2 separate regions of the Homo sapiens genome follow, and region 2 is linked to region 1. The links come from fine-mapping of genetic effects on plasma protein levels. Region 1 holds a variant in brackets. A gene starts in the other region. All regions are shown on their forward strands.

Region 1 (5,376 bases):
ATGTGGGGCACAGCCAGCACACAGCACTTTCTGTGAGCAATGGTTTTTTTTTTTTTTTTTTTGGAGACAGTCTTGCTCTGTCGCCCAGGCTGGAGTGCAGTGGCACAATCTCAGCTCACTGCAACCTCTTGCCTCCCAGGTTCAAGCGATTCTCCTGCCTCAGCCTCCTGAGTAGCTGGGATTACAGGCACATGCCACCACGCCCAGCTAATTTTTGTATTTTTAGTAGAGACAGGGTTTCACCATGTTGGCCAGGATGGTCTCGATCTGACCTCGTGATCCACCCACCTTGGCCTTCCAAAGTGCTGGGATTACAGGCATGAGCCACCGCACCCGGCCACAATGGCCTTTTTGTCACTGCTCCCTGTGCTGTTTGGTGGCACTGTTTTCCCATCCTATGCTGTCTTGACTCCCACTGAAGAATGGTGGTCTCAGGCCACAAGCATGGGAATGTCTGGGGTGCTGGGAACACAGTGCTGGCCCAGCTGGGCAGGGGGCTTAGCTGGATGTCCTGGCAGGGGCACAGCCCTCTTATACCCCCTAAAACTCCAGCATGGCCTTGCCCGATGATGGGTGTGGAGTCACTCAGCATGCCACCCCTACATACCCAAAGGCCCCAGGTCTGCCCCATGTGCCCCGACTCCCACAGAGACCCCCCTCCCAGCTTTGCTCTTGTGGACCCTTGAACATCAGGAAACACAAACACAACCCAAACCCCTTCCAGAGGAAAGCTCAGGCCTGAGGTCTGAGAGCACAGCACCCCAGCACTTCACGAAAAGGTGTGTGAAATCCTAAGCTCTCGCACTTCTGCCTCTGCATCAGCCCAGGACACCACTCCACCCTCTTGGCGGGTAGGCCTCTGTGGAGGTGAGTCACCCCTGCCTGGACACCGTGCTGCCCTGCTGCTG[A/G]GGACACTTATACCTCAGCTCAGAAAACAGGGCCTCCAGACTGAGTGAGTGGCTCATGCCTGTAGTCCCAGCATTTTGGGAGGGCAAGGCAGGAGGATCGCCTGAACCTCGGAGTTCGAGACCAACCTGGGCAATATAGTGAGACCCTCATCTCTGCCAAAAATTTTTATTTAATTAGCCAGGCACTGCGGCACATGCCTGTAGTCCCAGCTACTTGGAGGCTGAGACAGGAGGATTGCTTGCACCTGGGAGGTGGGGGTTGCAGTGAGCCAAGATTGTGCGAGTAGTGCCCCCAATGGCTCCGCCAACCCCGACATGGCAGGTTTCAGCTCCATCACCGCCCTGTTCCCTCACCCCACGTGCCACTCGCATGTCTCTCTCAAAAAGACACCCCCACTTTCCCCCAGCTCTGCTCAGCATAGTGGTCTCCACCTCCTGCCTCTCCCTGCAGCAGCCTCTCCAAGATGCTGTCCATTCTGGAAATTGAAAATCCAAAATCAGTACTTAAGGGCAAGCATAAGGTGCCAGCAGGACCAGGCTCCCTCTGGAAGCTCCAGAAGAGAATTCGTCCTGCCTCTTCAACGGCCAGTGTCTCTTGGCTTGCGGTCACGTCACTCCACTCTGTCTCTGTGGCCACATCGCTGCCTCTTTTTATCAGATCTTCCTCTGCCTCCCTCTGATAAGGGCCTTAGAGATTACATTTAGAGCTCAACAGGATGATCTTCCCATCTCAAGATCTTCTACTTAGTAACATCTCCAAAGTCCCACATGAGTTCACATTCATAGATTTTGGGGATTAGGATGTGTATATCTGTGGGGGCCATTATTCAGCCAATCACAACGAATATACAGCACGATCCTAATTTTCATAATACAAAATAAAATGTTTGTGTGTGTATATATATATATATATATATATATACACACACACACACACACACACACACACACACACAATAAAATGTATATATACAGATAAAAAACCTGGAGGGATCTAGGTTACCTGTGGGATATGGGACTGTGGGAACTTTCTGTGTCTATAATTTGTGTAGTGTTTGAAGTCTTGTAACATACTAATTTTATCATGACACACCCAAAATTTACTTGTAGATTCTCTCTGGATTGATATAAACATGAAGAATTTTATTTTATTTTATTTTTTGAGACTGGGTCTTGCTCTGTTGCCCAGACTGCAGTGTGTAAAATCACAATTCACTGCAGCCTCGAACACCAGGGCTCAAGTGATCCTCCCACCTCAGCCTCCTGAGTAGCTGGGACCATGGGCACACACCACCATGCCCAGCTAATTATTTAATTTTCTGTAAAGACAGGGTCTTCCTATGTTGCCTAGGCTGGTCGTGACCTCCTGGGCTTAGGCAATCCTCCTGCCTCATCCTCCCAAAGTGCTGGGATTACAGGCATGAGCCACTGCACCCAGCCACATGAGGGACTTTAAACTATCTGGTGACATTCACACCTGAGGCAGGTGCTCCCCAGGGGGCTATCTCCGGAAACAGAGTGACCCACCAGGGCTGGGCCCCAGGGGCTTCCGCACCGCCACACCAGCAGCAACGCCCTGCTGACCTGCAGCAGGGACAGCAGGGAAGGGGTACAGACAGAAGAAAACAATGACAAACAGCCTTCCCTCTCCCCAGTCAAGGCCACGGCAGGGAAGTGAAGGGGACATCAAAAGGAGACCAAAGCTTTGTCCAAGGAGACTCTGAGAGCAAGGGTGAGAGGCACACTGTCCACACAAACTCCTGCCAGACAACCTCAGAAGAGGGCATCAAAGCTTTGTCCAAGGAGACTCTGACAGCAAGGATGAGAGGCACAGTGTCCAGCACAAACTCCTGCCAGACAGCCTCAGGAAAGCCAGGCCCAGCTCCTTTCAAAAGCTCAACACAGGACCAGTGAACAGCCACAGGCATTTACCATGTGGTCGGTGCTCATCAGGACACGGAGGGTCACTGCCTCCCTCACTCTGCAGGGTTGTATGGAGTGGTGAGTTCTTTTAAAATTCTCTGTCTCCTGAATGCTATGAAGGTGGGCAGGACATGGTGTTTACTGAGTCCTGTCCAGCCCATGAAGTCCAAAGGCACAGCTGGGCATGGTGGCTCATGCCTGTAATACCAGCCCTTTAGGAGGCCAAGGTGCGATGATCACTTGAGCCCAGGAGTATGAGGCCAGCCAGGGCAACATAGGGAAACCCCGTCTCTACCAAAAAAAAAAAAAAAAAAAAAATATTAGCCAGGCGCACACCTGTAGTCCCAGCTACTTGGGAGGATGCTTGAGCCTGGGTGGATCATGATGGCACCACCACATGCCAGCCTGGGAGACAGAGCAAGAACCTGTCTCAGAAAAGAAAAAAGAAATACAAGGGCACAATTTGGTAAGTGCTCTCACAGAGGATAGATAAAGGGTCCTGAGATACAGAGGCGGGAGACTTACTCTCAAAGACAGAATCCAAAAAGGCTGCTTTCGGGGAAAAGTGGCCTGAGAGTCAGGCCTTGTTGGACAAGTTCCCCTAACGTGCTAAGCAGAGACCTGTTTCACAGGCCAAAAGAGCATGGAAGCTCAGCCAGAGGGACCCAGGCGGGCCCACCTCACGCCTGTGTTCCTCGGCAGCCTCTGCTGCCCCCTGGTGGCCATGCTGTGCACACCGCCACCAGACGAGGGCGCCACCCACAGGCACCACCTGCTCCCACCCTCAGGCAGTATTTCAATGGTCCCGTGGCTCTGGGCCACGCCCACATGACTAGCAGCCACAGCTGATCCCATGGCCTGTTGGCCACCCCATCAGCAGCCCCTGCTTCTGATTTCTCCCCGTGCTTTTTTTTTTTTTGGAAACAGAGTCGCCCAGGCTGGAGTACAGTGGCACAATCTCAGCTAACTGCAACCTCTGCCTCCCAGGCTCAATTGATCCTCACACCTCATACCCCCAAGTAGCTGGGACTACAGGTGCACGCCACCACACCCAGCTATTTTTTTTTTTTTTTTTTTTGTATTTTTTGTAGAGACGGGGTTTTGCCATGTTGCTCAGGCTGGTCTCAAAGTCCTGGGCTAGGATGACAGGCATGAGCCACCGTGCCCAGCCTTGCCTGCGCTTTTCCTCCCACACTCCAACCAGATCCGCAGACGAGGCTGAGGGGCCCTCCATCTAATCAGAAAGGGCAGCCCTCTGCATGGACAGGCCCATAAGCATGTGGCTCAGCAAGGACGTGGCATCTTGTACAGAGTGCACAGGCCAACACATGTGCACACACAGGGGCGTAAGGCCACCAGGTTAGGTCTCTGTTCTGCACATGGGAGGGCCCCGCATCCAAGCTTCCTGCCCTTAGTTCCCGTATGTTGTTCATGCACCACTGTGAGACCCCCATGGCCCTGCCCGCTGCTGCCCTGCCCACCCCCTAGCTCTGGTGCCTCAACCTCCAGGACTGCAAGCACCCCAGTCCTTTCTCTCACAGACTCGCCTTACCTCTCTGAGACAGAAGAACAAGTCAGTCCCGTGGCTCACTCACAAAGCCAGCCCTGAACCCAGGTCTGACTCAGATGCCAAAACCTCCAGCCATCCCAGGGACTGGCCCCACCCCATGGTGGGCTGTGCCGCGGCTCTCAGCTGGACACAGCCCCTGTGGATGTACTGTGGCAGGCGGCCTGCCTTTCCTGATGCCCCAGCACCGCCACATGCCACCCATCTGGGCCTCCAGAGCTATACCTGCAGCAAGGCCAGGTCCGCATCTTGGGCTAGCTGCTGCAGGTTCTTCACAGCAGATGTGGTCTTGATCACCCGCACTAGGGCAGGGGAGCAGTCAATAGGAAGCTCACCCAGCAAGGACTTCTCATCACTGAGCAGCAGCAGGGCATGGTAGGGGCTGCAAAACAATCACCTGTCACGGAACACACGAAGTGCAGGAACCCTGCACCGGGTATGCACCAGGTCCTGCACCAGGTATGCACCGGGTATGCACCAGGTCCTGCACCAGGTATGCACCGGGTATGCACCAGGTATGCACCTGGGACTCAAACACACGGAACATACGAAGTGCAGGGAACCCTGCACCAGGTATGCACCAGGTCCTGCACGAGGTCCTGCACCGGGTGTGCATCAGGTATGCACCTGGGACACAAACAGGCAGCTGGAGCCTCCTGGCCCTTAACTGCGGAGAGAAGGGCCAAGAGCGGGATTTGAGAAAAGGGCAGTGGTCTGTTTGGAGGCCTTCACAAAATCTGCCAAGGACTGGCTCATGCCTATAATCCCGGCACTCTGGGAGGCCAAGGCAGGCAGGTCACGTGAGGTCAGGAGTTCGAGGCCAGCCTGGCCAACATGGTGAAACCCCATCTCTACTAAAAATAAAAAAATTATCCGGGTGTGGTTGCACCCACCTGGGGTCCCAGCTACTCGGCAGGCTGAGGCAGGAGAATCACTTGAGCCTGGGAGGCGGAGCTTGCAGTGAGCCGAGATTGCGCC
Region 2 (5,376 bases), not on the chromosome of region 1:
AACACTTCTTGTCCCTAGCATTTTGGATAAGGGATACTCAACCTGTACATGCAGTATGAATATATATTCCTATTTTTTTCTTTTTTAGGCAAACGCTAACATACAATATACACTTCTGTACCTTCTTTTTATCACTTACTAATTAGTATGTCTTAGAGAGCTTTTAAAAACCAGTATATAGACTTGGAGAGTTTCTTCAACTAATTTCACAGCTGTTATATTTTACTGTATAGCTACATCAAAATTTATTTAACCATTTCCCCATTGATTGACACAGGAATTGGTCCTAATCTTCTGCCATTACATATAATGCTACAATGAATAACCATGACATTTTGTACTGTGGGAGTATATCTGCAGGATAAATTCCCAAGAATGCAATTGTGAGTCAAGGATACGTGTGTTCATGAATTTGACAGATATTCCCAAGTTGCCCTCCATCAGAATTACATCAACATGCCTATATAGAGCATGCCTATTTCCCCACAACCTTGCCAAGACAGTGTGTTATAAAACTCCCAGACTTCTGCCAAACTGATAGTGAGTATGGTAGTGAGGAAGAGTTTTTTTATTTTTATTTTTATTTTTGAGAGGGAGTCTAGCTCTGTCACCCAGGCTGGAGTGCAGTGGCGCGATCTCGGCTCCACTGCAACTTCCACCTCCCGGGTTCAGGCGATTCTCTTACCTCAGCCTTCTGAGTAGCTGGGATTACAGGCACGTGCCACCACGCCCGGCTAATTTTTGTATTTTTGGTAGAGACGGGGTTTCACCACATTGGTCAGGCTGGTCTCGAACTCCTGGCCTCAAGTGATATGCCCGCCTCGGCCTCCCAAAGTGCTGGGATTACGGGTGTGAGCCACTGAGCTTGGCTGTTAAAAAATAAATTACCTTGAGTTGACCTGGCGCCTTGAGTTTAACTCTATCATTATCAATTCAGTTTGTTTTGGGTTTGGAGGTTAACCCTCCAATGTGTAGAACTTCATATTTGCATTATTTTTGGCCTATAACTTTCGAGTGACTGAGACTTCAAGATGTGCATTATGGCTTAAGTCGTCTTATACATCTGCAACAGCAGATGTATACACAACCCACTCAAAATTTGTGTGTGCAGTAATATTTCATTTGGGACATATTGTTTGTAAACTGATGCTATTTAAATTACTTGCAGCATAATCTCAACACATGTAAAAATACTTTTACACTTGTAGGATATTGTTTTATAATACAAATTCTTGTGTACAAACTCCATTAACATTTTATTTATGTACAGATCATTATTACCAGTTTTTGTTTCCCAGTTGAGAGTGGGGAGGGCAGATGGGCTCAGAATCTTTGCATGTGCCAGCATCCTGCAGTCTCAAACTTTTCCATTCAAAGCAAATACCTGTGCCAATATCTGTGTCACTTCCAACAAGAATGAATGCTGCCTAAGTGCTCTCCACACATTTGCAAAATGACATCAGGCCCCCCAGGTCTTCCAAGAACCAAAGGAAAAGTTCCACAAAAGTGAATCCTGCCATACAAACAGTCCCAGCACTTTCCAGCTCCTTTTTCATTCCAGATTCAAAGGTCTGGCACCAGGATGAGCTGAAGTGTAAGGCATCCACCACTCTCCCCCTGCTCCTACTCCCATCCCACCCAAAGCCTTGTCTAGAGAAAGCTCCTCCCAGCCTCAGGCCCAGGAATGGGAATCTCTGTGGGTCACACATCAGTAGGGAGGTCTTTCCCGATCCTTTTCTATGCTACTCCAGGAGTCAAAGCGTCTCCTGGGACTTTTCAGGGCGCTTCAGAAGAGCCCTGGGCCTAAACCAGCTCAACCAAGCTGCAGGGACCCAGCCTCCTGAGAAAAGTGAATGTGAGCCCGGTGCATTCAGAGGAGAATGAAGCCTTCACCCAGAACACACTCTGGGAAGATGTCCCAGGCCCAGGGGGAGGGTTTGTACTACCAGACCTAAGTCACCTAAACTGACACCAAGTCTCATCCATCCCAACCATTCCATTCCGGGTCAGAGGGGTCATCGATTTAACCAGCAAGGCTGCCCATCCAACGGTTGCTCCCTCTGCTCCCTGGAAGGGCCTCCTCGTGGGCGTTCTGTACCTACAGGTCTTGTTCCGTTCTGGGAACTGCCAGTGGTGGCAAGAGGTGGAGCAACGGGTGCCAGGGCAGGGAGAGGTGAGTCTGGGAGGGAAGCAGAGGCAAGATCCATGGGGCTTTAGAGACTTTGCCAAAGCAGTGCGACTGCTCCCAGGTTGTTGTCAGCCGTCAAGAGTGAGTGCACCTCCCTGGGCAGACTTCTGCTGCCCCAGTGCCCAGGAATAGGCAGGGGTTTGCCGCAAAATGAATGACACCTGGCAGACAATAAGCTGAAGCTTTCATTAGCAGCTTAAGCTGAGGACTATCTATGCAACCGATACTCCCTGTGTGCTCCCCGGGACTGCTTAATGTGAGCCCTTGTGGAGCGATTGGCACCAAGAAAGCAAGGACTAAGTCAGAAGTTCAAGTCCCAGCCTTGCCACAGCCTCAGGGTGCCCTCGAGCACAGCAAGCCTCAGTTTTCCCATCTGTACAATGAGAGAGGTACACAAGGTAGACTCGAAGGCTCTTTGTTGCCAGGGCCCTGTGTTCCTTTGAGTGTATGTGCTTCTCAGGCCCACAGAGGTCCTTTGTGTTTCGTATGTGAACTGCTCTCTAGGAAACCCATGTAACTGTCTGTGTCCTGGGGCACATACATGAGGACTCATGTGGGCCGTATTGTGTGTTTGTGCCGGGGGGAGGGGAGACCCCAGAACAATGTCCCCCACCCCACCCCCCTCCTCAATAGGCGGAAGCCACTGGCTTCCTCCCTTTCCTGCCTCCTGCCTCCTTTGTGCCAGCAAGACTGAGTACTGGAGAGAGACAGGGGATGGGAAAAATCAGTCCAGCTGTCCCCAGGTCTGCCCTTACCATAACCTTCCCCCCACCTCAAGTGACTCCTCCCAGGCCACACCCATCCCCAGCCTTGTGGGGGCCAGATTGGGGGGCCTAGAGGCTCAAAGGCAGAATGAGTCCTCCCACCCCCTACCCTGCCACCCCTCCCACCCAAGCCACCTCATTTCCTCTTCCTCCCCAGCACCGACCCACACTGACCAACACAGGCTGAGCAGTCAGGCCCACAGCATCTGACCCCAGGCCCAGCTCGTCCTGGCTGGCCTGGGTCGGCCTCTGGAGTATGGTCTGGCGGGTGCCCCCTTTCTTGCTCCCCATCCTCTTCTTGGCTTCTCATGTGGGTAAGTCTCCCCTGAGTCCCTCACCCCATTTCTAGGCCCCGAGGCCCTGATTTCTACCCAAGAAACCCTATTTTATCATAGAGACAGAAAGTAGGATGATGGTTGCCATGGGCTGCAGGGAGGAAGAAATGGGGAGTTTTGTTTAAAAGGTACAGCGTTTTTACAAGATTTTTACTTGGTTTTACAAGATTAAAAGAGTTATAAACATGGGGCCGGGTGCGGTGGTTCATACCTGTAATCCCAGCACTTTGGATGGCTGAGATGGGAGGATCAATTGAGGCCAGGAGTTCAAGACCAGACTGGTCAACATAGTGAGACCCCGTCTCCATTGTGTTTAGACTTTCGTCTTTTTCAAAAAAAAAAAAAAAGGATGGATGGTGGTGATGGTGGGACAACACTAGGAATGTATTTAATCACATTGGGTTATATGCTGCTTACAAATGGTTAAGATGGCAAAATTTGCCGGGTGTGGTGGCTCACGCCTGTAATCCCGGCACTTTGGGAGGCCGAGCGGGTGGATCACAGGGTCAGGAGATCGAGACCAGCCTGGCAAACATGGTGAAACCCCATCTCTACTAAAAATACAAAAATTAGCCGGGCGTGGTGGCAGGAGCCTGTAATCCCAGCTACTTGGGAGGCTGAGGCAAGAGAATCGCTTGAATCTGGGAGGCAGAGGTTGCAGTGAGCTGAGATCGCGCCACTGCACTCCAGCCTGGGCGACAGAGCAAGACTCATCTAAAAAGAAAAAAAGATGGTAAAATTTATTTTATATGCATTTCACCACAACAAAAAATTTTGGAAAACAAGCCCTATCATCACTGCCATCACTTTGATCCACTAGAAAGTGAGATCAAGGCCAGGAAAACACAGGCAAGTGCTAGAAATCACTGCAACCTGGGATCAGGGGAGGAGTGAGGAGTAGCCGCTGACTGTGTTGGATCTGAGGATCTGTGGAGGGCCATTTTCAGGGGGTGTTCATAGGGTAATTGTGTTGGATTCACTCAGTTGTTCACTGGACAAACATTTATTGAGCACCAACAATATTCCAGGAGTTGTGCTAAGTGCTGGGCCATTAGTTGAGAGGCTGGCAACACCTAGTCTGTACAATGAGATTAAATGATGCCAGCCTCCTATGGTTGTTATGGGGTTTAAATGAGAAAATGATGCAGAGCAGTTGGCACAGTGCACTGTGCTTGGTAAGGATTTCTGAGTAGGTGGCAGCTGATTCCTTCAGTCTGCTGGTCAGCCGATTAGAACACAGAGGCTGCCTTTGAGTGGTTCATGGTCTAGTGCAGAACACAGGACAGGGGAAGAGGGCTAAACAGGGACAGACACAGGAGCTCTAGAGGAGCACTGAGGAGGAGTTCAGCTTACACTGCCTCAGGTAGGAGACAAAAAGGGAATCAAGGAAGATTTCACTAAGAGGGGTGGTCTTCATTCCAGGCAGCCAGAACATAAAAAATGCAAGTCTCAGAGGCATGGAGGTGCATGGGAGAGAAGGTGCCTGTTAGGAACACAACAGGAGGGATAGCGTGGGAGCATCACGGGGCTTAGGAGCACGAACATTATCCTGAGGGCAATAGGGAGCCATGGGAGGTCACAGGCAAGAAAGTCACAAGGTCAGGTTTGGTCTTAGATCACCGTGGAGGATGAGTTGCAGAAGGAGGGGCTGTGGCTGTTGGGATGGTCTAGGTGAGTAAGGATGAGGGCTGAACAAAGGCAGGCTGGGGGGGTGGGGATGAAGTCAAGAAGCGTTCAGGAAACAATGTGCAGAATTCTATGACTGATGAGGCAGGCAGCACAGTGCTCAGAGATGTGGACTTTAGAATCAGACAACCTGGCCCTGCCACTCACTAATTGTATGACCTTGGGCAAGTTACTTAACTTCTCTGAGCCTCCCTTTCCTGGCTATAAAACAGGGATAATAACATCCACCTCCCAGGATAGCTGGGATGGTAAAATGAAACAATATCAGTAAAGTGCCTGGTGCATAACTGGCAGCCAATAAACATTCATTATTATGACAATGGGAGTAGAGATGACTCCATAGTTTGTGTCTCAAGTGGCGGGTGCTGTCCAGTGAGTCAGGGAGCACTGGAGAGGAGCAGAT

Direction of the effects. Positions count from the first base shown, and alleles are read on the strand shown. Strength reflects both the effect of a copy and how common the allele is.
For the plasma level of the protein whose gene starts at base 3,119 in region 2, allele A in region 1 goes with a lower level than allele G (weak association).

What was found. A credible set is the group of variants that fine-mapping cannot tell apart. PIP is the posterior inclusion probability: the model's chance that the variant is causal. The UK Biobank Pharma Proteomics Project read protein levels with antibody pairs (Olink). The fine-mapping took linkage between variants from a reference panel, not from the people measured, so its PIPs are less certain.
Region 2: it holds the start of TIE1, and the variant in region 1 is the best candidate, but not a certain one, in a credible set for the plasma level of the TIE1 protein (UK Biobank, PIP 0.66).

Annotation. Positions count from the first base shown.
Region 1 is chr16:93,522-98,897 of GRCh38, forward strand. It overlaps NPRL3 (NPR3 like, GATOR1 complex subunit), which reads right to left. Exons shown (of 14, transcript NM_001077350.3): 9 at 4,624-4,780. Among named protein-coding and RNA genes, the nearest start is that of MPG, 18 kb to the left of the region's middle. The variant A/G (reference allele first, on the strand shown) is at 909.
Region 2 is chr1:43,297,864-43,303,239 of GRCh38, forward strand. It overlaps TIE1 (tyrosine kinase with immunoglobulin like and EGF like domains 1), which reads left to right and starts at 3,119. Exons shown (of 23, transcript NM_005424.5): 1 at 3,119-3,266. The coding sequence starts at 3,209. RefSeq lists a silencer at 2,959-3,058 and an enhancer at 3,089-3,178.